Homo sapiens: one gene and its partner. The protein of the gene in region 1 interacts with the protein of each later gene in a biochemical or structural test. Each region holds a gene or a part of one and is shown on either strand. Other genes may lie near its edges.

Evidence for each region.
Region 2: the proteins of FBXW2 (region 1) and MSN form a complex in vitro, tested with the Homo sapiens proteins (one study listed by BioGRID).

The regions. Positions count from the first base shown.
Region 1 is NC_000009.12:120,779,816-120,792,405, reverse strand, and holds part of FBXW2 (F-box/WD repeat-containing protein 2), read left to right. Parts: intron 1-4,127; coding exon of another isoform or gene 4,128-4,147; coding exon 4,148-4,637; intron 4,638-12,590. UniProt on the Homo sapiens protein: Substrate-recognition component of the SCF (SKP1-CUL1-F-box protein)-type E3 ubiquitin ligase complex.
Region 2 is NC_000023.11:65,710,315-65,722,904, reverse strand, and holds part of MSN (moesin), read right to left. Parts: intron 6,088-12,590; coding exon 6,004-6,087; intron 1-6,003. UniProt on the Homo sapiens protein: Ezrin-radixin-moesin (ERM) family protein that connects the actin cytoskeleton to the plasma membrane and thereby regulates the structure and function of specific domains of the cell cortex.

The DNA of each region.
Region 1 (12,590 bases):
TATGTAAGTTTATAGGTGTGTATACATTTTCAGCGCCTCTGTGCTCTTTGTTTGATAAGAAAAGGGGGAAATGAAGCCTCCTTCCCTCTACCACTAACAATTATGTTGCTTTCACTCTTGACTAGGCCAGGTTCTGATAGAGGAGGAGGGGAAAACACATTTACACTGTTTTCCAGAAGGTCCTGTCTCTAATACCTCTGAGTATAGGTTTTGGGAGAATGGGTACTGGGCAAAATATTGAGCCTGCTACTTCCTGTGCCATTCTGGGAAGGCCACTCCACTTCTTGAGCCGTAAATTTCCTCATTAATGTTAGTTAAGGGCGGCATTACTGATACCTTCCATGAGGTTATGAAGATGAAATGAGATAATGTTTACCAGTGGTACTTTTTCTTTAAAACCAATATAAATATGTGAGTTGCCTAGGTAACATAGGGAGTTAATGGCAGAACCTGAGACCAAACCCAGGCTCTCATTTTCCAATTTAGGAGTCTTTTTGTTGCATGACCCACTTTGTGATTATTGATACTGAAGGCAAGAGGGCAAGTTGAATGTTAACTCTGGGGTAGGGACGTAGGGTAAGGGGGCCAAACAGCAGGGAATGTGGGTAGAATAAGGCACCTACTGGGAAACTAGAGCCTCCAATAAACAGGTGCTCTTCTTTATAAAATTAAACCCCTAGTAAGTTTGAGCCCTTGAGTTTTTCTTCCAGGTATTTTGAAGAGAAACTTAGTGATAAGATGATAGGGTCAAAAGAGATGTTAGTGGTCATGTCCATTCCACCCTTAGTGTCACAGAAATCTTTACTGCCAGGTGTTCATAGTAGTAAAACTAACAAAAAGTACCATTTGAGTTTTTACCCGCTAGACTGTACACTGTGCTAAGCATGTCCCTGCTATATTTCTGAGTTTCACCCTTCAAGTTGGATGATGGCTTCCATTTTACAGATGATAAAACTGAAGCTTAAAAGTTAGTTGGACATGCCCATAATCACATAGGAAGTGGCTGAATCAGTAAAACATCTGGCCAACCTCCAAAGTATTTTCATTTATCACATTCTGCCTCTGTGTCCAACTGTCCTTGACTGTTCGTGGTAATGGGAAACTCACTACTCTGGAGGTAGCTATTCCATTGTTGGAAAGCGCTGAGATTTAAAAGCTCCTCATGTTGAATTGAAATCCCATTTCCTGAGGTTTGTGCAACCAGTGTATGATATTTCTAGAGGCTGCCTAAAAGAGTCCAGTTTAGACCTGTTACCTTAGAAGGCCCCCTCCAAAGTTAGTTGATCTGTTCAGAAAAGTAAAAATTGGTGTTTTTTAAATAGTGCATTCTGCAGTTAGTGAGACTTGCTTTTTTAGGGAAAAAAATGCCTTTTTCAGAATAATCAGAGGTGAACTGCTCAATCTTACAAGGGATTGAGTGGTTTAAAAGGCAATCTAAGAGTTGGGAAAATTTTTTTTATTAAGAGTTAGGAGAATATATAAATCTGAGACATGGCTGAATTTTTTTAGATGTGCTCTCTGAAAAAGCTTCTTCCGTAATCTTTAGCGGTGTCATGGGCACATTAATTTGGCATTTTTTTTTTAAATTTAAGTTCTAGGGTACATGTGCACAACGTGCAGGTTTGTTACATAGGTATACATGTGAATTTGGCATATTATAGTATGTCTCTTAGATATTTGTGAATGATGGGAACCTGATAATATTTTAATGAGTATTCTAAATTTGCCTTGTAGCCGTTTGAATAACAGTTCAGCTCACTTAAATACAAGCATTTCTACAATAGATGTGTGTCAGCATGTGTATGTATGTGTGTATATATGTATGTGTAGATGTGATGGAGGAAGCTTGCCACACCACACTTTTCACTGTTAAAAATGTTTCAGGAGCAGGTGTGTGGTTTTTTTTCTTTTTTTTCTTTTTTGAGATGGAGTCTTGCTCTCTCGCCCCGGCTGGAGTGCAGTGGCGTGATCTCGGCTCACTGCAAGCTCCGCCTCCTGGGTTCACGCCATTCTCCTGCCTCAGCCTCCCGACTAGCTGGGACTACAGGCACCCACCACCATGCCAGGGGAATTTTTTGTATTTTTAGTAGAGATGGGGTTTCACTGTGTTAGCCAGGATGATCTCGATCTCCTGACCTCGTGATCCGGCCGAGCCCACCTCAGTCTCACAAAGTGCTGTGATTACAGGCGTGAGCCACTGTGCCCAGCCTGGTGTGTGTTTTTAATTGACCAGTATTAATTAACTAGCTATTGTGACAATATGCAGATGCCCACAGAAGATAATTGCTTTGTCTTGTTGCAAATTATTATTTTTTAGAAGTAGAGATTTTGAAGAAATGTTGTATAGATAAGAGGGTTGTTAGGATTTAGAGGAAGGAGGGGGCTTGTTATTGCGTGATAAGTCGATAAAACTTTTAGCCATCTGATTATTTTTTGTCAGCTAGGTAAATTTTTAATACAGATTAATAAATCTTCTCTAGCCCAAACTTTGGCTTGAAACGTATTATCTTGAAGTCTAGTCACAGTTCCAGAAATCAAAACTGTTAGCAGATGATGTGATTGCAAGGTTTGGTTGCTTCTACTAATAAATCAGATTGCTTATTTGTCTAAGAATGTTATTGCCAAATTTGATATTGGACACTTACAATTTTACTCACCTTACATTATCAAAGTTGAAAGATGAGATCTTGCTTTTTGTGTAGACCTGATCTAGGTGATATGTCTGGAAAGAAATTAACTTTCCTTTTTCACATTAATTTGGACATATGTTTTTAAAATTAATATGACAGTCTTGTGAGAAACTGAGTATTCAGAAGGAAAGTTTTTATTAAACCATGGAAATATTTAAATATATGGAAATAAAGAGAATAATAAATCCCTATGTACACATCACCCAGCATTAACATCTATCAACACATAGTCTTGAGAAAGATAGTTTTTACTGGTTATATTTTTTGTAATCTTTCATTAGTCTAATCCTCATTAAGAGTGAATTAACACCTGTTGACACTAATACAGGATACTTTAAAAAAAATTATTTGTTACAGTTAGCTCAGGAGCAATTTGTCATTCTCCTAAAGGAGAAAATGGTCTAACGGGTAGACACACTACCTCCAGATCTTACCACTTGGTCGTGGTTCTCCTGGTTGTCACTTATTTTAGAGAGAGAGCTTGGTACCTGATCTTGAGAGCACTGGCGTCCAGTCTGTTCTGTGGCTATTTAGTAGCCCTGTGAATATAGGCAAATCACATACCTTCTCTAACCTGTAGTTTCCTCATTTGCAAAGTGAAGATGATAATGTCTATTTTCTGGTGTTTTATAAACATCAGGATTATTAATTTGCTTTATTTGTGCAGGCCTCCAGGACCCCTCATGGCTCTCGGGGGCACGTGGTTAAGAGTTGTCACTAGCTCATATGAGGTTTAGAAAAACAGACTAAAGCCACATAAGTTCTTTTATAATTCATGTTCTAAACAGGCAGTGCCATAAAGAAGTTGGAAGAACCAGAATTCCTGAGGCAGATAACTTACCACACCTGCTTTTCTTCCCTAAACCTTTTCATCTGAACATCTGTTGCAAAACCAAGTAGTCAGTTCTATGATTTTGGTGACAGGTTGTGCCTGCCATGACAATCAGTGTCTCAGGTTACTGCTCAGGAGACTGTTTCTGATTGTCACATCCTGGTGCTTGCTTTTGTGATTTTAGTACCCAAATAGAATGTATTAAGGAATTCATTAAGGAAATTGTTTTATAATGGTTTTGATGGGGGAAGGGTGTATTGTAAAATATACTGTTTTATAATGAATTGTTGGTAAATCTATTACTATGAAGATGCATGTAGCACGTGCTAGACTTCAAGAGGAATAAGTCACACACGCCAGTCTGTTTCACTGACATGTTTTGGATTCATGATTTGTTAAAGTATGTTTTCTCAAATGTGTTTTCTTTTGTGTGCATGGAAAGTGTTCAGATAAATATGGTGTATTAACTGTAAAGTTGTAATGTAACTACGCATAAAGTTGTAATGGCAGATTTTTTACACTAATTTTTAATACTTCATTTGTTAGCAGTCTTGCTTGAACAGTCTTTTTGAGCAGAACTAATACAATATTTTGATGTGCCACAGGTAAATTTTTCCATAACCTTATGGAGAGAAAGGACTTTGAGACATGGCTTGATAACATTTCTGTTACATTTCTTTCTCTGACGGACTTGCAGAAAAATGAAACTCTGGATCACCTGATTAGTCTGAGTGGGGCAGTCCAGCTCAGGCATCTCTCCAATAACCTAGAGACTCTCCTCAAGCGGGACTTCCTCAAACTCCTTCCCCTGGAGCTCAGTTTTTATTTGTTAAAATGGCTCGATCCTCAGACTTTACTCACATGCTGCCTCGTCTCTAAACAGTGGAATAAGGTGATAAGTGCCTGTACAGAGGTGTGGCAGACTGCATGTAAAAATTTGGGCTGGCAGATAGATGATTCTGTTCAGGACGCTTTGCACTGGAAGAAGGTTTATTTGAAGGCTATTTTGAGAATGAAGCAACTGGAGGACCATGAAGCCTTTGAAACCTCGTCATTAATTGGACACAGTGCCAGAGTGTATGCACTTTACTACAAAGATGGACTTCTCTGTACAGGTAAGAGATGTTGAAACTGCTTTTTGGGTTTTGTTTTGTATTTCATAGGGTGTAATCTTGAACCAGTCTTGAGCTTTGAGAATGACAAGTGTTGATTATATGAGATATGTACAGTGACTTTTTTTCTCTAATCCTGAGTGGTTCCCCCCCCTTATCCTCTTCCTTCTCTCTAGAGAACACAATCATTTTTATAAAATTTTATGAGAAAAACACTTCAGACTGTCTTTTAAACATTATGTGAATTACAAAGCTATAGATTACTTTTTCTTTGTGTTTCCTCCATGTGTAGTCCTCTGTTGCTAAATTCTGTTTCTTTTTCTGTTGGCACTGATATTTGAGGAAAAAAACAGTGGAAAAATTGGTATCTAATCCTAGCAAGTAGTTAGATCATTATGGCCAAATTACTTAACCTCTCTGTATCTTTAAAATATGGGAAAGGAGGTCGGGCGCAGTGGCTCATGCCTGTAATTCTAGCACTTTGGGAAGCCGAGGCGGGTGGATTGCCTGAGCTCAGGAGTTCGAGACCAGACTGGTCAACATGGTGAAATCCCGTCTCTACTGAAATACGAAAAAGTAGCCGGGCGTGGCGGCATGCGCCTATAATCCCAGCTACTCGGGAGGCTGAAACAGGAGAATCGCTTGAACCCGGGAGGCGGAGGTTCCAGTGAGCTGAGATGGTGCCACTGCACTCCAGCCTGGGTGACAGAGTGAGACTCCATCTCAAAATAAATATATATGTATATATGAAAGGAGATATTTCTTCCTTGCTCTGAAATCCTGTGATTCTAAGTAGAAGAAGTAGAAGTTGGAGTTTGGGCCTGGGAACAGAGAGAGCTGGATATTTTTTAACTAGGCAATTAAGTAATTTTATGAAACAATATAATTATTAAAAATTTAAAATTATATGTTATTTTCCATTTGTAATGGACGTGTGTTTCTGTATATGATTATAACTAATGCCCATGTGTTAGATAATACATTTTGACAGGCAATGTAAATAATTCTTAGGCAGCATTTAGAATAACTCCAGGCAGTTCTTGCTAATAATCCCAATGCCTGTTTCCTTACATTGTATATAATATATAGAAATACTTGGTGTTCTTTTTCATCCAAGATAACTTCCAATAAACATTTGTGTATTACGGTATAAACTGTTCCTTTTTGTAAATATATCAATAGTCATTATTTAGCCATTTCCATATTAATGCATATATTAGTCCATTCTCAGACTGCTAAAAAAACTGCCTAAGACCGGGTAATTTATGAAGAAAAGAGGTTTAATTGACTCCTAGTTCCACATGGCTGGGGAGGCCTCAGGAAACTTACAATCATGTCAGAAGGCAATATGATCATGGCGGAAGGCGAAGGGGAAGCAAGCACCTTGTTCACAAGGCAGCAGGAGAGAGAGAGTGTGAGTGAAGCAGGAAGAGGCCCTTATAAAACCATCAGGTCTGGAGAGAACTCACTCACTATCATGAGAACAGCATGGGGGGCCACCCCCATGATCCAGTCACCTCCCACCAAGTCTGTCCCTCAATACCTGGGGATTACAGTTCAGGATGAGGTTTGGGTGAGGACACAAAGCTTAACCATATCAATGCATATTCAGATTGTTTCTGTTTTTATTAGTGTCTTTGTATTACCTCTTTTTCCCTTGAATTCATTTGGGATAGAAGTCTAAAAGTAGAATCACCAGATACAGAAGTATGAATTATTTTATAGCTCTTTTTTTTTTTTTTTTTTTTTTTTTGAGATGGAGTCTCACTCTGTCACCCAGGTTGGAGTGCAGTGGTGCAATCTCGGCTCACTGCAACCTCTGCCTCCAGGGTTCGAGTCTCCTGCCTCAGCCTCCCGAGTAGCTGGGATTACAGGTGTGCGCCACCACACCCGGCTAATTTTTTTTGTATTTTTAGTAGAGGCGGAGTTTCACCTTGTTGCCCAGGCTGGTCTCAAACTCCTGACCTCAGGTGATCCACCCTCCAAAGTGTTGGGATTACAGGCGTGAGCCACCGTGCCCGGCCCAATTTTATAGCTCTTCTTAGTGCCCTTTCCAGATAGATTGAATTGATGCCATACCAATATAGTGTTAAGTAACTTGCTTCTCCCTCAGGAGTCTCACCAGACTCAATTTAAATATTTTTAATGTTGAGATGTATCATTTCTCAAGACCGTTTTACAATGCATTTCTTTATTCATTAAGGGTATGTATTATGTGGTGATATTTTCTCTGAAATGCTAGACACTCTGCTGGTTTTGGAAAATAAACATTTGATTTAAAGCATTTCATGGTTTGGTTTGTCATCCTGAAGTTATTTCACACTTTATTTTCCTTGTGTTACAAGCCTGATTACTAGAACAACATCACCAGTTCTTCTAGGCTTTGATGTACTTTCTCTGTTGTGGTGATGGCTTTTCCATGTCTCTTTTGCCTCATGATTTTAAAAGATTAAGATGCAGTTGACCAAATGAGGGGGCTCATGCCTGTAGTCCCAACACTTTGGGAGGCCAAGGCAGGCAGATTATGTGAGCCCAGGAGTTTTGAGACCAGCCTGGGCAACATAGCAAAATCCCATCTCTACAAAAAAATAAAAAAACAGCTGGGTGTGCTGGCTCACACCTGTGGTCCCAACTACTTGGGAGACTGAGGTGAGAGGATCGCTTGAGCCCAGGAGGTGGAGGTTGCAGTGAGCTAAGATTGTGCCACTGCACTCCAGCCTGGGCAACACAGCAAAACCCTGTCTCAAAAAAAAAAAAAATATTAAGATGCAGTATCATCTTGGAGCTTGGAGCTCCTACTGGCAGTTGACCATTTTTTCACAACCACCTGTAGCATTTTTTTTTTTTTTTTTGAAACAGGAGCTCCTCTGTCACCCGGGCTAGAGTGCAGTGGCGCAGTCTCGGCTCACTGCAACCTCCTCCTCCTGGGTTCAAGCGATTCTCTCGCCTCAGCTTCCTCAGTAGCTGGCATTACAGGCACGCGCCACCACAGCCCGGCTAATTTTTGTATTTTTAGTAGAGAAGGGGTTTCACCATGTTGGTCAGGCTGGTCTCAAACTCCTGATCTCAGATGATCTGCCTGCCTCGGCCTCCCAAAGTGCTGGGATTACAGGTGTGAGGCACTGCACCCAGCCGCATTTTTTTTTTTTCTTTTTTGGAGACAACCTCTCACTGGGTAGCTCCATCCTGGAGTGCAATGATGTGATCTTGGCTTTCTTCAACCTCCACCTCCTGGGCTCAGGTGATCCTCCCATGTCAGCCTCCCGGGTTTAGCTGGGACTACAAGCGAGCAACCCTATGCCTGGATCCTTTTTGTATTTTTTGTAGAGACAGGATTTCACCATGTTGCCCAGGCTGGTCTCGAACTCCTGGGCTCAAGCACTCCGCCCGTCTCAGCCTCCCAAAATGCTAGGATTACTGGTGTGAGCCACTATGCCTAGGTCCTCTTGCTTTAAAAAGTTTTTTTCTTCTCTCATCAAACCTTATTTTTGAAATGTAGTAAAAACTGCAGTTACTTGGAGTGGAAGTAAATGGGAAATATTCACTGAATTCTCTAACTACCTGGAAAGTTAATATCTACAATTCTACATTTTAAGATTATTCTCTTGGTGGGTCTGTATGTTAATGTGATTTTTATTCTGATTAAATTCATCAGGTTTGCATATTTAAAATTACGCTGTGCAGTGGTTGAAAATGATCCAAAGTATTAGTTTAATTTTTCTAACAGCAGCATCCCTGGAACTGTGAAGAGAGGTATTTGTGACAGAATTGTACATGTGTTTGTGTCATCTTGTTACTTAAGAGATTGAATTCTCATTGTGGTGGAATTGGGAAACCCTGAATTTGGCAATAAACTTAGTGACTCTCACATTAGTGCCTTGAGTAAGCAATAGACAGTTTTATTGAAGAGATTAATGGCTAATGACATTGAGGTAGTTATCTTTCTCTTTCGCAATTTATTTCTGAAATGGTAAGAAAGGAATCTATTATGCTTTGTGCTGTTCAGTAGATATTTACTTATGGGATGCCTACTGTTTGAAAAACAATGTGAGGGCATACACGGATGAATTAGAGCAGTTTTTTCTTGTGGAACATACACACTGGGACCAGGAAGATGACCTGACTGAGGTAAAAGTCTCTGTGTGGACTATAGCAAATCAAGAACACTTGCCTTTCTAAAGAGTGCAGCTGGTGCTCCATTGTAATAAATTATTGCCATGTGGGTGGGATTCAGGGTCAGAGTTGTTAGATCTGACTTCAAGAGAAGCCTGAAATCTAGAGTTCTGTGCAATAGTCTGATTTTTTTTAAAGTATTATTAAGATTTTTAAGATACTGAATGGGGAGGGATTTTTTTCTTTCGTGCAGTGTGAGAGTCCACATTTCTTTAGTCCTCTTTCACCTCTATGCTGCATCACTGGTGACCTCTTTGAAAACATGTTGGGTTAGCCAGTGCAGCAAATGGGAGTCCAGAGGGGAGGCTGACATAAAGCCAGAAAGGAGCAGAGAACAGTGATTCCTAAAGGATTCTCAGGAGTAGACTTGCATCACTATAAATGGAACTCGACTCAACCTGATTATTATTATTTTTTTTTAGGGTGTAAAACTGGCACAATGTTTTCCTATAAAAACTAGTTTAAATAATTAGTTTGGATAACCTTTTTTTTTGCAAATTGTGCGAAAACATACATAACATAAAATTTACCATTTTAATCATTTTAAAGCATACAGTTGAGTGCCATTAAGTACATTACGTTGTTGTGCAGTCATCACCACTATCCATTTCCAGAACTTTACATCTTCCCAAACTAAAATGGTATCAGTTAAACACTATACAGTGTTAACTGTATAAACAGTATATAATACACTATATAGTTAAACTGTATCCAATTTTTTTGTTTGTTTTTGGGGGGGTTTTCTTTTGAGATAAGGTCTCACTCTGTAGCCCAGGTTGGAGTGGTTGGAGTACAGTGACATGATCTTGGCTCACTGTAACTTCTACCTCCTGGACTCAAGCGATTCTTCCACTTTGGCCTCCCAAGTAGCTGGGACTACGTGTGTGTGCCACCATGCCCAGCTAATTTTTGTATTTTTTATGGAGATGGGGTCTCACCATGTTTCCCAGGATGATCTCTAACTCCTGGGCTTAAGCACTCTTCTTGCCTCAGCTTCCTGAAGTGTTGGGATTACAGGCATGAGCCACCATGTCCAGCCTAAACCCTGTCAGTTAAACATTGCCCATGCCCCTTCCCCCACAGCCTGTGGCAAAACAACCATTCTGCTTGCTTGCTTGTTTTATTTTTTTTTTTGAGACAGAGTCTCAATTTGGTGCCCAGGCTGGAGTGCAGTGGCTCAATTTTGGCTCACTGCAACCTCACCTCCCAGGTTCAAGCGATTATCCTGCCTCAGCCTCCCGAGTAGCTGGGATTACAGGCATGCGCCACCGTGTCTGGCTAATTTTTGTATTTTTAGTACAGACGGGGTTTCAACGTGTTGGCCAGGCTGGTCTCAAACTCCTGACCTCAGGTGAACCAGCCTCGGCCTCCCAAAGTTCTGGGATTACAGGCATGAGCCACCATGCCTGGCCCACCATTCTACTTTCTATGAATTTGACTACTCTAGGAACCTAATATAAGTGGAATCATACAGTATTTGTTCTTTTGTGGCTGGCTTAGTTCACTTAGCATGATGTCTTCAAGGTTCTTCCATATCATAACATCTCAGAATTTTATTCTTTTTTTTTTTTTTTTGAGACGGAGTTTTGCACTTGTTGCCCAGGCTGGAGTGCAGTGGCGCCATCTTGGCTCACCGCAACCTCCGCCTCCCGGGTTCAAGCAATTCTTCTGTCTTAGCCTCCCAAGTAGCTGGGATTACAGGCGTGCGCCACCACGCCTGGCTAATTTTTGTATTTTTATTAGAGATGGGATTTCTCCACGTTGGTAAGGCAGGTCTCAAACTCCTGACCTCAGGTGATCCTCCCGCCTCGGCCTCCCAAAGTGTTGGGATTACAGGTGTGAGCCACCACACCCGGCCAATTTTATTCCTTTTTAAGGCTGAATAACTCCATTCCATGTATGTATATATGTGTGTGTGTGTATGTGTGTGTGTGTGTGTGTGTGTGTGTGTGTGTGTGTGTGTATGTATATAAAATATATTCCATGTATGTGTCACATTTTGTTTGTCCTCTCCCCTGGTTTTTAACTGCCTTCTTGCCTCTAGTTTTCCCCCCTTCAAACCTTTTTCCATGATATAGCCATAGTGATCTTTCTGATATGCAAATAAGGTCATAGTTAAACAACCTCCTAACCCAGTTCTGCAGCCAAACCTTGCCACTATTTCGCAGTCAGACTGAACTGTTTTCATAATCAGTGTTCATGTTTTAGGCAGTGCTTTTGACAAGCATTGTAAATAACTCCTAGACGGTTTTTTGAATGATTCCAAATAGTTCTTTATGACTTGATCCCAGTTCCTTTTCAATAATTTTTGTGTTGCATATAGAGATATTTAATAGTTGCTTTAATAGGTATATACCAGGGATTGGCAAACTGTGGACTGTGGGCCAAATCCAGCAGAAGAGAGTAATTGCAACTCAATAGGTCAACGTCTAAAATACTTACTATCAGGCCCTTTACAGAAAAAGTTTTGGTATATACTATTCCTTTTGTTTTGTTTTGGCCTGGCTAACTTATTCATCCTTAGGTTTAAATTAGTTAAAACTTAAAGGTTTTTTTTTTTTTGCCATGATATTCTTTCTTGAAACAGTCCTATACCAAAGCCCAGCTTAAAAACAAAAGAGGAGTGTAGTTGAAGAACCAATCATGCCAGTTCCTAAGGCACGTGTTATAGAGCATGGTCATAAATTCAGTGGAGCCTCGTCTGAGATGTTTTCTCTTCTTGTCCTCTCCTTGTATTTGCTATGGGCTTTTGTAGTGCCTGCCAGCTACTATACTGAATTATTATTGCTTGTTTAGCCTTTTTGTCTTCCCAAGTAGACTGAGTGCCATGAGAACAAGAATCCTGCCTGACACAGAAGTTCTATAAATATATGTTGAATGAATGAATGAGACCCCAGTTGAACACTGGTAACCAAAACCAAGCTCATAAAGGACCTAAAATGATTTCCTTTCCTACTCTAGCTCCTTAGGAATACAGTCACAACATGCCTGAACTGAAGGCCTTAAAGACTATCTAGGCTTACGCTCTCCGGTACAGTAGCCACTAGCGCCATGTGGTTTTTGAGTACTTGAGCTGTGGCTAGTCCAAATGGAGGTGTGAAATACTGGGTTTCAAAGACATACAATGTAAAAGAATATAAAATATCTCAATATTTGTATTGATTACATGTTCAAATGACATTTTTGACATACTGAGTTAAACACATTTAATTATTTTAACACATTTTCTTTTTTTTTTTTTTTTGAAACAGAGTCTTCCTCTGTTGCCCAGGCTGGAGTGCAGTGGTGTGATCTTGGCTCACTACAACCTCCTCCCGGGTTCAAGTGATTCTCCTGCCTCAGCCTCCTGAGTAGCTGGGACTACAGGCGTACGCCATCATGCCTGGCTAATTTTTGTATTTTTTTTAGTGGAGACAGGGTTTCACCATGTTGGCTAACATTTCTTTTTTTTTTTTTTTTCTTTGAGGTGGAGGCCCTCTGTAGTCCAAGCTGGAATGCAGTGGCGTGATCTCAGCTCATTGCAACCTCTGCCTCCCCAGCTCAAGCGATTCTCATGCCTCAGCCTTCCGAGTAGCTGGGAATATAGGCGCGCCATCATGCCCGGCTGATTTTTTTTATTTTAGTAGAGACAGGGTTTCGCGATGGTCTTGAACTCCTGAGCTCAGGCAATATGCCTGCCTTGGCCTCCTAAAGTGCTGAGATTACAGGCATGAGCCACTGCGCCCGGCCCAACATTTCTTTTTTAATGTAACTATTAGGACATTTTAAATTATATCTGCAGTT
Region 2 (12,590 bases), on another chromosome or scaffold:
AGATCAGGTCAGCTTAGGAGCCCAGAGATTCTCTTCTTGAATCCCCCATGCATTTATCTGAGTAAACAAACTAGTGATGTCATCAGCCACTTCAAAAGCCCAGAAATTCTCTTCTTGAATCCCCCATGCATTTATCTGAGTAAACAAACTAGTGATGTCATCAGCCACTTCAAAAGCCCAGAGCATGGCCGGGCGCAGTGGCTCATCCTGTAATCCCAGCATTTTGGGAGGCTGGGGCGGGGCAGATCTTTTGAGCTCAGGAGTTCGAGACCAGCCCAGGCAACATGGTGAGACCCCATCTCTACTAAAAATACAAAAAGATAGCTGGTGTGGGCACCTGTGGTCCCAGCTACTTGGAAGGCTGAAGTGGGAGGATCACTTGAGACTGTGGGGTGCGAAGGTTGCAGTGAGATCACACCACTGCACTCCAGCCTGGGTGACGGAGCGAGACCTTGTCTCCAAACACACACACACACACACACACACACACACACACACACGAGCGTGCACGCCTAGAGGAGAATGAGGGAGTAATGCTGGAGCCACAAGAGAAGAACTGTGTGAGAAACAATGTGCAAAACTGCATCAATGCCCAAACACCTGAGACCCCCAAGATACCATTACAGATTTGGCAGCATCTGCATCAGCCACCCACCTGAAAGCAAATTATTGCACCACTGGAAAGCACCAAGATGGGCTACCACTATTGCTGTTTCTGTTATTACACATTGCCTGTGGTCAAGTGGTCACCTGCTCTATAACAGAGAACATACTCAGCTGAGGTTCTAAGTTTCTTTCTTTTATCGTTTTTTGTTTGTTTGTTTAGAGATAGGGTCTTGCTGTTAACCAAGCTGGAGTGCAGTGGTGCAATCATAGCTCACTGTAACCTTGAACTCCTGGACTCAAGTGATTCTCCAGCCCCAGCCACCCAAGTAGCTAGGACTACAGGCATGCACCACCATGCCCAGCTAATTTTTAAGTTTTTGTAGAGATGGGGTCTCGCTATGTTGCCCAGGCTGGTCTGAAGCTCCTAGCCTCAAGTGATCCTCTCACCTTGGACTCCCAAAGCACTAGGATTACAGGCATGAGCCACCATGCCCAACCTAGCTAGGGTTCTAAGTTTTGGAAGCAGGTAAAGTGGAAGAAGGTTCCAGAGGACAGTTGATCAAAAGCATTAGAAAAACTGGAAATGCTATGTGCCCTGGTTTAAGCCCCAGCTATACCACTTCCTAGCTATATGACCTTAAACAGATAATTTCACCTCTGTAAGCCTCAGTTCCTCATCTGTAAGATGGAGATCCTCCTACTATAATATATGTTAGTTATTTTATAAAATGAAAAAAAAAAAGGTTTACTGTCCTTATTGCAGAGTATTCAAGTCCTAAGTACTTTACTGAGCCAGAAGAACTTCCTGATTTCATAGCTCCCTCATCTGAACTCTCAGGGCAATGCCACCTACTTTAGTCCTTAATAAGAACCACCAATATTAGAATGCTTGGTATGCACCAGGCATTTTACTTATTTGAGGATTAAATCACAAAATCTGAGATTAGCATGATTATCATTTTACAAAGGAAAGGAAAGTACTGAGAGGCTAAATGAGCCATCCAAGGTCACACAGCGAAGTAACAGGACAGAATTTGAACTCAGGGCTGGTTCTAAATCCTATGCTTTATATATCACCCCATGGAACCTGACCTCAAGGGCGTTTATTTCTTTCTTTGTGGGTAGAGAGTTGCATGTGCCTTTCTATGCTTTTATAGGTAAGGAACTCCAAGTTCCTGAAGAACAGAGATGGTGTTCGACAGTGTAGACCTTCAGTCAATATTAAATGAATCAGTAAATAGATGAATGAATCGATGCTTTGAGATTTCACCTCTGTCCTTGAGCACAGCCCTTTAGTGGCACCTAGGTAATCCAAGATCAAAAGCTTTAGAAGTTGAAGCAAGTGACAAAATCACTATAGCAAAACATGTTCTCTCTCCCCTCTAGCTGTAGCACACTCACAAGAAGAGAGGTAAATGAGACAAACTATGAGTCCTACTTCCCTTTCCCACCAGGCCCTAGACTTCCTCAAGCTATGGCATCCCATTGTTGCCTATTATTTATTGCTGGTGCCAAGGAGTACTTCCTCTCTGGTTGGCTTCCTCTCTGGTCATTGGCCAGATGACTGCTGCGTTCCAGGATGGCCATAAAGCTTTTGCCAATTCCTGCCAAGGAGTCTAGCTCCTTCCTCCCAGGCCCAGGCTCTACCAGGAGGGCCTCCTTGAATGATGGGTCCCAAGAGCCAGACAGAACGGACTTCCTCCCTTATGCCTCATCAAGTTAGAGAGAGAAGAGCTCACATCCCCCAAATGCCTATGAACACATAACTCTACTGATTCCTGACCTGACCTGCCTTGGCCTCAAGAGGGCCAAATGCTCAATTCCTTGAGTTCAAATCTTTTTCCCTGTATTTTCTCACCTGTGGGGTCCACCTCTGTCCCTCTGACTCACAGAATGTGACTGCCCCCCTCCTTCTTATGATAGTCCTTCAGAGGTCTGAAGACAGAAAGCATATCTTCCTTGAGTCTTCTCTAAGTTGAATACTCCCAATCACCCCAAACAGAGTAGTGCAGTGCAGGAAAAGTATAGTTTTGTGATCAGAGTTGTATTCAAAATTCCATATCACAACTTACTAACTACATGACCTAGAGTATGTTCTTTCACCTCACAGAGGCAGGAGCATTGTGAGGATTAAAGCGCCTAGCCAGGAATAGGCCATAGTATGTGCTCAATAAATGATACTTCTCAAGATAACAATGATGAGAAGTCATGGACTTCTTGGTTTCCAAGTCTCCCAAAGGCTTTGTTTTGGAAGCAGTAGCATTCAGAACTAGCATACCAATCTGCCCAGGGTTCCCTACTATCTGGGGTTCCCTACTATCTGGACTTCCCTCAAATCCACACCCACAGCACACAAACCAAACCAACACTAACAAAAAACTACCAGGCATTGAGGTTTTTTGAAGTTAATAAACCTCTTTGTTCAAGAATTTTTCTGCCCCCACTAGGCTCCAAATCATGCCTTCCTCATCCTCCACAGCCATCCCCCTGCAATGCACATATACAAAGCCCCCAGTGTTGAGGGTAGAGGATGGCGTCATCTGGTTTGGGATGGGGAATTAGTAGAATCAGGGCTCTTGGAAGGAGTATAGGTAAATGTCAAAGGAGCCTCTGGCTCCCAGCTGGTCTGTAAAATCTGCACTGACTAACCGCTTCCCTCTCTAATAGCTGCTACCCAGAATGATACTGCTGTCTAAAGCAAAGGGCCCAAAAGCCTATGTGTTCTATGGACACTTCCTCCCTTTTGTCTTAGAGACAGTAAAAAGCCTGTCAAGGAAGAGATGATCCCCCTGCCAGCTAGCCCTACCTCCTCACATATGCCAGCAGCTGATCATACTCAGGTGAGGCATTTCTCTCCTTTTTACAGAAAAGGATTGTCTGAAATCCCAATACTAGGAACAGAAATGGGAGAGAAAGAGAGATGGAATGCACAAATAAATGCCAGAGATAAATTTTCTGAGAGATAACCAGATTTGAGAAACAAGTTAGGCATTGTACAGATGAGAAACTGAGGCCCAAATAAGGGAAACGTTTGTATCACAGCGAATTAGTGATAGAGCCAACCCTACAGCCCAAGATTCATGACTTTCTATCCAGGCCCTTTTGACTTCACTAGGCTGTCCCTTTAAAAGTTCTCCAATATAACCTCCATGTGAAGAGAGAATGCAAAGCACAATTATAATTAGAATGCATTTAGTCATTCCAGACTAGCACCATAATCACTTGTGAGCTATGTGAATGTAAGCACATCACTTTAATTGTAGTAAACTTGTATTTAAATATTCCTCAGACTAATTTGTATTTTCACCAATTAAGTATCAATGATTACACTTTGCCATTCAAAGTAAAACAAACACAAAACAAACTCCAGAGAAGTAAGTTCCACCTAAATCTGAAGTTAGATATTCTGAGGATCATTAAGCCCATCTCCCAATTCTCCCAATTCTAGATTATTTTTCTTTACTTTTTTTTTTTTTTTTTAGAGACAGAGTCTTGCTCTGTCACCTAGGCTGGAGTACAGTGGCGTGATCATAGCTCACTGTAACCTTGAACTCCTGGGCTTGAGCAACCCTCCTGGCACAATCTCCTGAGTAGCTGGGACTATAGGTGTGCACCACCATGCCATGCTAATTTTTAAATTTTTTGTAGAGACAGGGTCTCGCTGTGTTACCCAGGCTGGTCTCGAGCCCCTGGGCTCAAGCAATCCTCCCATCTCAGTGTTAGGATTACAGACATGAGCCACCACATCACGTCAACTCCAGCTCAATTAATAATACAAGAAGCACAATGGTATTGGAAAGGGAGCTATCATTTATTACTTCTCTACCATATGCTGGATGCTTTCTTCCAGCTAACACTTTCTTTCCTATTTGTGTTTTCTTATCTTTCTCACCTATTTCGAATTTATCTTTTTGGATTGGACATCCTTATATGCCACTATAATCAGATTTTTGAGTAACAGGTAAGATACAAAACATAACACACTCACAAAAATCCTGTGAGGTAAGTATTAGATATTTCTCGGGGGGAGGGGATGAAGATACCAACCCAGAGAGTTCAATAATTTTCCCAGGGTCTAACTAGGAAAATGAGGATTTTGTGTCCTCATCTGTAAAACATGCCCATACTAATTCATGCACTCACAGAGCTTTGTGATAGTCAAATGCTTATCATAATACTTAGCATACACTGAGTCCTGGATAAATGTTAACTCTCATCTGTATTAGCCACAGACAATAATTTTCCCACTCTATGTAATAAGAACTCAGAAGGTGTACCCAAGCTGTCCTCAAATTTCTAGCCCTCTCCTACCCCTGTCTCCATTCTACTCTTGTCTTTTCTCTCACCAGTCAGAAGTATTCACAGGAATAGAATTAGCTTATTTGAACACTACCTCCTTCTTTTTTTCTTCCTCTCTCCAACCCTGGGGAAGTTCTCATATGGTAGAAGGACACAGAGAGCAAGGAAGAAAGGGAAGCAAGAGGGCCTGGAGAATCCATCAGGGTGATATGCAGCCTAACATCCTGGACAATAACTCAGACCTCCACTTCATCGGAGTCTGGTGGAGAAATAGGATAATGGCCTGTCTGGTGAGGTCCCAGCCTCTGGAAATGGGAGCCTCATTTTTGCTCCTAGAAGTCTGGCCACAGACGGCACATTCCCTTGAATGCTAAAAATGTCTGTAGCTGCCATCTGTTTATTATAGTATACAGTACATCCTTTCTGACAATAATGATTCACAATGAAGGGACACCCCTTGGGTTGGAGATGGGAATGACCTCTTCACTATGGCGAGTAAGCAATTATCTTCATGGCATGCCTGTAGGAGATGAAGCAGCCTCCTACTGCATCCATCAACTCCCATGTTGTCCTAAGTCCCAACATTCTTTTGAGAGAAATGTGCATAGAGCTTACTACCTCAGGGAGAGTAAGTTAGTTTCCTTCTACTAGGAAGCAAAAACATGGGACAGAGGCAGTGTGGTGCAGTGGCAACAATGTGGAGTGCAAATCCCAGCCAAATATCATTTGGGTGCAATTAAGTTATTTAACTTCTGAGCCTCATCATTAAAATGGAGAAGACATCACTTACATGTTTCAGAGTTAAAAGGAAGGCTCCATATGCTAAGATTTTTAAAGCATCTAGCATAGAATATACACCATTTTCTTTTCTCCCTTATTCAGGACCAAAGATAAAATTAATCAGGACCATAGGGTGCAGGCTGCCAAAGTTTAACTTTGCCTCCTTTCATATTAAGTCTGGAATCAGCCTTCATTTTGATCTATCTTGGAGTGAACAGGAAGAGAGATTCTTTGACAAGAGGCAAAAGTCATGGATTGTTGGCATTGTGGTGGAAGCTATTCAGAGAAGGAGAGGAGGCTAAGGAGTCTCCGCCTTACCTGGTCAAATAGCTGCTTCCCGGTGGTGTTGGGCTGGATGGCAAACTCCAGCTCTGCATCCATGGTGGTCACACGCACACTGATCTAGGATGAGATCAAAGGAAGCAGGTTAGTCATCTGGCTCTGTGTTCAACAGAGCCTGAGACAAGTGTCTCTGCTCAACCACAGAGGAAGGAGTTAGGATGCTAAGAGCCTGGGCAACTTAGATACTGATGGGGATGAAGGGAGAATATTGACCCAAACACAACCCCTGCTCCCAAGCAGCTTATTGAAGACAAACAACACAGCCACAGAGCAATACTTACCAAAGAACAGACAAGCATGAAGGCCGGGTGCAATGCCTCATGCCTGTAATCCCAGCACTTTGGGAGGCCGAGGTGGGTGGATTGCTTGAGGCCAGGAGTTCGAGACCAGCCTGGGTAACATGGCAAAACCCCATCTCTACTAAAAATACAAAAATTATCCGGGCATGGTGGTGCACACCTGTAGTTCAAGCTACTTGGGAGGCTGGGGTATGAGAATCACTGGAACCCAGAAGGTAGAGGTTGCAGTGAGCCGAGATCACACCACTGCACTCCAACCTGGGCAACAGAGCGAGACTTTGTCTCAAAAAAATTTTTAAAAAAGAATGCAGATCAGCCTACAACTAAGAGCAGGCAAATGATAACTGTACTTCTTCCAGGAAGGCCTTTCCATCTATACTAGACAGCTTCATCTCACAGGGTTCTCTTCTCACCTCTGATCTACCTGGATTATCTATAGCACTGGTAAACAATTGCAGAGGCAAATTAATATCAGGACAAAGAGCACTGGGTTCCACATGATAATCTAAAGGGCAGAAAAAGCTTTCAATAAAATCTAACACCCCTTCATGTTAAAAGTTCTCAATAAACTAGGTATTGAAGGAGCATACCTCAAAATAATAAGAGCCATCTGATAAAGCCACAACCAACATCATACTGAATGCGCCAAAGCTGGAAGCATTCCCTTTTAAAACCGACACAAGACAAGAATGCCCTCTCTCACCACTCATATTCAACATAGTATTAGAAGTCCTGGCCAGAGCAATCAGACCAGAGAAAGAAATAGAGGGCAACCAAGCAAGAGGAGAGGAAGTCAAACTATCCTTGTTTGCAGATGACATGATCCTATATCTAGAAAATCCAATAGTCTCGGCCCAAAAGCTCCTTAATCTGATAAATAACTTCAGCAAAGTCTCAGTGTACAAAAATCAACATACAAAAGTCACTAGCATTCGTATACACCAACAACAGTCAAGCCAAGAGCCAAATCAGGAAGGCAATCCCATTCAGAACTGCCACAAAAGAATAAATATCTAGGAATACTGTTAACTAGGGAAGCGAAAGATCTCTACAAGAAGAACTACAAATCACTGCTCAAAGAAATCAGATATGACACAAACAAATGGAGAAACAGTCCATGCTCATGAATAGGAAGAATCAATATTGTTAAAATGGTGATACTGCCCAAAGCAATTCATAGAATAGACTCAATGCTATTCCTATCAAACTACCAATGACATTCTTCACAGAACTAGGAAAAACTATTTTAAAATTCATATGGAAACAAAAAAACAGCCTGAATAACCATGGCAATCCTAAGCAAAAAGAACAAAGCTGGAGGCATCATGCTACCCAACTTCAAATGATACTAGAGGGCTCCAGTAACCAAAACAGCATTGTACTGGTACAAAAACAGACACAGAGACCAATGGAGCAGAATAGAGAGCCCAGAAATAAGGCCACACACCTACAACCATCTGATCTTTGACAAAGTCGACAAAAACAAGCAATGGAAAAAGGACTCCCAATTCAATAAACAGTGCTGGGATAACTGGTTAGCCATATGTAGAAGATTGAAACTGGACCCCATCCTTATCTCACATATAAAAATCAACTCTATATGTATTAAAGACTTAAATGTAAAAGTAATGTAAAACTCAAAATTATAAAAACCCTCAAAGAAAACCTACGTAATACCATTCTGAACATAGGAATGGACAAAGATTTCATAACAAAGACGCCAAAAGCAATTGCAACAAAAGCAAAAATTGACAAATGAGATCTAACTAAACTAAAGAGCTTCTGCACAGCAAAAGAAACTATCGAGTTAACAGGCAACCTACGGAACCAGAGAAAATATTTGCAAACTATGCAACTTACAAAGGTCTAATATCCAGCATCTATAAGGAACTTTAACAAATTTACAAGAAAAAAAACAACCCCATTAAAATGTGAGCAAAGGATATGAAGAGACACTTTTCAAAAGAAGACATACATGTGGCCAAGAAGCATATATAAAAAATTTACATCATTAGAGAAATGCAAATCAAAACCACAATGAGATACCATCTCACACAAGTCAGAATAGCTATTATTAAAAAATCAAAAAAAAATAATAACAGATGCTAGTGAGATTGCAAAGAAAAGGGAACCTTTATACACTGTTGGTGGGAGTGTAAATTAGTTCAACCATGGTAGAAAACAGTGTGGCAATTTCTCAAAGACCTGAAAACAAAACTACCATTCAACCCAGCAATATCATTATGGGGTATATATCCAAAGGAATATAAATCATTCTATCATAAAAATACATAAACGCGCATGTGCATTGAAGCACTATTCACAATAGCAATGACATGGAATCAACCTAAATGCCAGTCAATGGTAGACTGGATAAAGAAAATGTATGTTAGTATGCAGCCATAAAAAACAACAAGATCATGTCCTTTGCAGGAACATGAATGGAGTGGAGGTCATTATCCTTAGCAAACTAATGCAGGAACAGAAAATCAAATGCCAGACTGGGCATGGTAGCTCACACCTGTAATCCCAGCACTTTGGGAGGCCAAGATGGACGCATCCCTTGAGGCCAGGAGTTCAAGACCAGCCTGGACAATATAGCGAAACCCCATCTCTACTAAAAACACAAAAATTAGCCAGGCAAGGTGGTGCACACCTGTAATCCCAGCTACTTTGGTGGCTGAGGCACGAGAATCGCTTTAACCCGGGAGGCAGAGGTTGTAGAATACCACATGTTCTCACTTATAAGTGGGAATTAAATGATGAGAACACACAGACACATAGAAGGTGGAGGGTGGGAGGAGGGAGATGATCAGGAAAAAATATTTTAATAACTAATGGGTACTAGGCTTAATACCTGGGTGATAAAATGATCTGTACAATGAACCCCCATGACATGAGTTTACCTTATGACAAACCTGCACATGTACCCCTGAACTTAAAATAAAAATTAAAAACAAAGAAGAACACTGGATTCCAAGCCTAGCATGTAGCTGGTCAAATCTACAACCTTGGATAACTCCTGTCCTTTTCCTGGGCCTTAGTTTCCCTTACCTGTGCAAAGGCAGGAATGGGATGGAGGGCAGCCAATTAAACTAGATAAATGGTCCAAAGACCATTTCAGTGCTGATGTCGGTGGTTCTATATACTGCCTTGCATTGCTAATGCTTCCTATATTTATGTCTCATTGGCTTCCTTAGGCTCAAGAGGGGAAGGGGGCCTCAGTAGAGGTGGGTATGGGTGGCATAGAGGGGCTACCAAAGCCAACTCAGTGGGAGGACAAAGGTGCAGAAACAGGCCCAGACCAAAATAAGAGACAGCCACACACATGATTTCACGGGCACTAGAAAAAATACCACCTTTACAAATAGATCCTCGAAGCTAGGTCAATGATAGCTGAAATTTCATAATTAGAGATTTAGTCCTTTGGCTGAAAACTCAGTAGTAATGGTAGCAGTAGTAATAGTAACAGGCAGCAGCTTTCCTGTATCAAGACTTGCTACTCACCAGGCACTTCATATGTACTACCTCATTTAATATCAATAATCACCCTGTGAAGTAGAGTATTATCTCCACATTGGAGATAAAGAAATAGGTATTTGTCTAAAGTCACATTGCTATTAAGCAGGGGAGACAGGGTTTGAATCCAGGTCTAAATCCAAACCTCACAATGTAAACCAATATGCTAAATTCCTCTTACAGAGTACAAAAGTCTCCCATTAAAAGAAAAAAAAGATTGATTTTTAGTTGTTAGATATTTTGCTTAAATAATGTATATAGTACAGCCACAAAATGGCTTCTTATATGGTCATACAAAATCTTTATGAAGACTATTTCATGCTCACGGAAGACACTTTAGTAATATTGAGGAAATGTAAACAGTATTTCATAGAGTCCGTGAGCTCAACTTTGTAAAATGTATACATAGAAGGATGATTGGAATCTTGTCCAAGTATTAGTCAGGCTTGGTTTTGGGGTGGTGATCTTATGGGTGCTTTCTCCTTTCTTTAAACTAAAAAAAAAAAAAAAAAATCTAATCTACATTTTCTAAGTTGGTCACATACTGCTTATAGTATTGAGGGAAAGCACTAGATATAGTATTGCCAAAGATGCAAATTTCCATGGAGTGAGTAAGACATTAAACCTTATCAGTCTTTGAACCTCTAGGACTTTCCTGAACACACGGGTCAGGAGCAGGGAAGAGGGGGCCAGGCAGCTATTTTGCCAGATAAACAATTACGATGAGGATCAGGCCCAGAAAACAACTTTGTAAATAAATCTCGCTAGGGAGCCAAGGAGGAAATCTATTTTAGGATTGACAATGGGACAGGAAAGGCCCTGAAGGCAGGAACAAGTAAGGCAAGTACCCCAGTGGGAGTAAGGCAAGGTTAGCCACTTTGATTTGGTCCTACCCTAGGCTTCCTGCCAAGTCAGTGACCCCTACAGAATGGGCCGTCATAAAGTAGGATGGGGCCATTGGACTGGAATTTGAGGGGCACCATACTATATCCAGCCTCAAATCACCCTTGAGCTGGGTCAAGGGTGACCTCAAAACACCAATGACTGAAGGGACAGGAGAGAATAGAAAGGGGGCAGTGGGCTTTTTAGAATAATAGACTTCATTCTCAACTCAAAGTTTACGTCTTACTTAGAATTACCTTTCCAGTACTCAAGATTCAATGGGTACTCATGCAAGATGTTGGCTAAATGAATGGGTACCAAACAAGGGATATTGGAGATAGATACAGCATAATATACACATACAAAGATGGGGAAATTTGACATCTTGACTTTTTTGTGCCACGAATCATTCTTGCCTGTCTAGTGAAGCCTATGGACCCCTTCTTAGAATATTTGTAAATGCATGAAATAAAGTAGATACAATATAACAAAATTATATCGAAATATTTGAAATATAAATCAAAATTTAATAATATGTGCTTATTATCATATTAAGTAATTACCGAGCACTAGGTCTTATTAGTTAGTTATTGCCACTGTAATTTCAAACGTGTATTGAGCATAAATAATATTTTGAGAAATATACAATAACTAATTGTGATATAAAAATATGTATGTTAGGGGCCGGGTATGGTGTCTCACGCCTGTAATCCCAGCACTTTGGGAGGCCAAGGCGGGCGAATTACTTGAGGTCAGGAGTTCGAGACCAGCCTGGCCAACATGGTGAAACCCCATCTCTACTAAAAATACAAAAATTAGGCCAGGCGCGGTGGCTCACGCCTGTAATCCCAGCACTTTGGGAGGCCGAGGCAGGTGGATCACCTGATGTCTGGAGTTCAAGACCAGCTGACCAACATGGTGAAACCCCACCTCTACTAAAAATACAAAAAAATTAGCTGGGCGTGGTGGAGCATGCCTATAATCCCAGCTACTTGGGAGGCTGAGGTCGGAGAATCCCTTGAACCTGGGAGGCGGAGGTTGCAGCAAGTTGACATCGCGTCATTGCACTCCAGCCTGGGCAAAAAGAGCAAAACTCCATCTCAAAAAAATAATAATAATACAAAAATTAGCCGGGCATGGTGGTGCACGCCTGTAGTCCCAGCTACTCTGGAGGCTGAGGCAGGAGAATCGCTTGAACCCAGGAGGCAGAGGCTGCAGTGAGCCAAGATCACGTCACTGCACTCCAGCCTGGGCAAAAAGAGCAAAACTCCATCTCAAAAAAATAATAATAATACAAAAATTAGCCAGGCATGGTGGTGCACGCCTGTAGTCCCAGCTACTCTGGAGGCTGAGGCAGGAGAATCGCTTGAACCCAGGAGGCAGAGGCTGCAGTGAGCCGAGATCACGTCACTGCACTCCAGCCTGGGTGACAGAGCAAGACTTCATCTAAAAAAAAAAGTACATTAGATAGTTTCTGTATAAACTTCTATTATTAAGAAACCTTAAAAAAAGGGTAGAATCCAGGAAAACACTCCACAGCCTAAGAGTTGGTAACAAGGTCATGGGTACTGCTATTATTGCTGCCTTTATTTTATTTTTATTTTTATTTTTATTTGCCTACATTATAATTGAACAAATGGCTAAATTACAAAGGAGAGGTTGGTAAAAAACAAATAAGTAATTTTCCTCCATCCAAGTTCATATATCCTTCCCACTTCAAATTCTGTCCATGGACCCCATAGAGGTCTGAGGACCCCAGGTTAAGGAGCTTCCTATAAATTCATTTCAATTCACCCAATATTAATGGAACACAATGTTTAAGGAACTATGGTTGGAACAGACCAGTAGAACCGGTCCCTGATC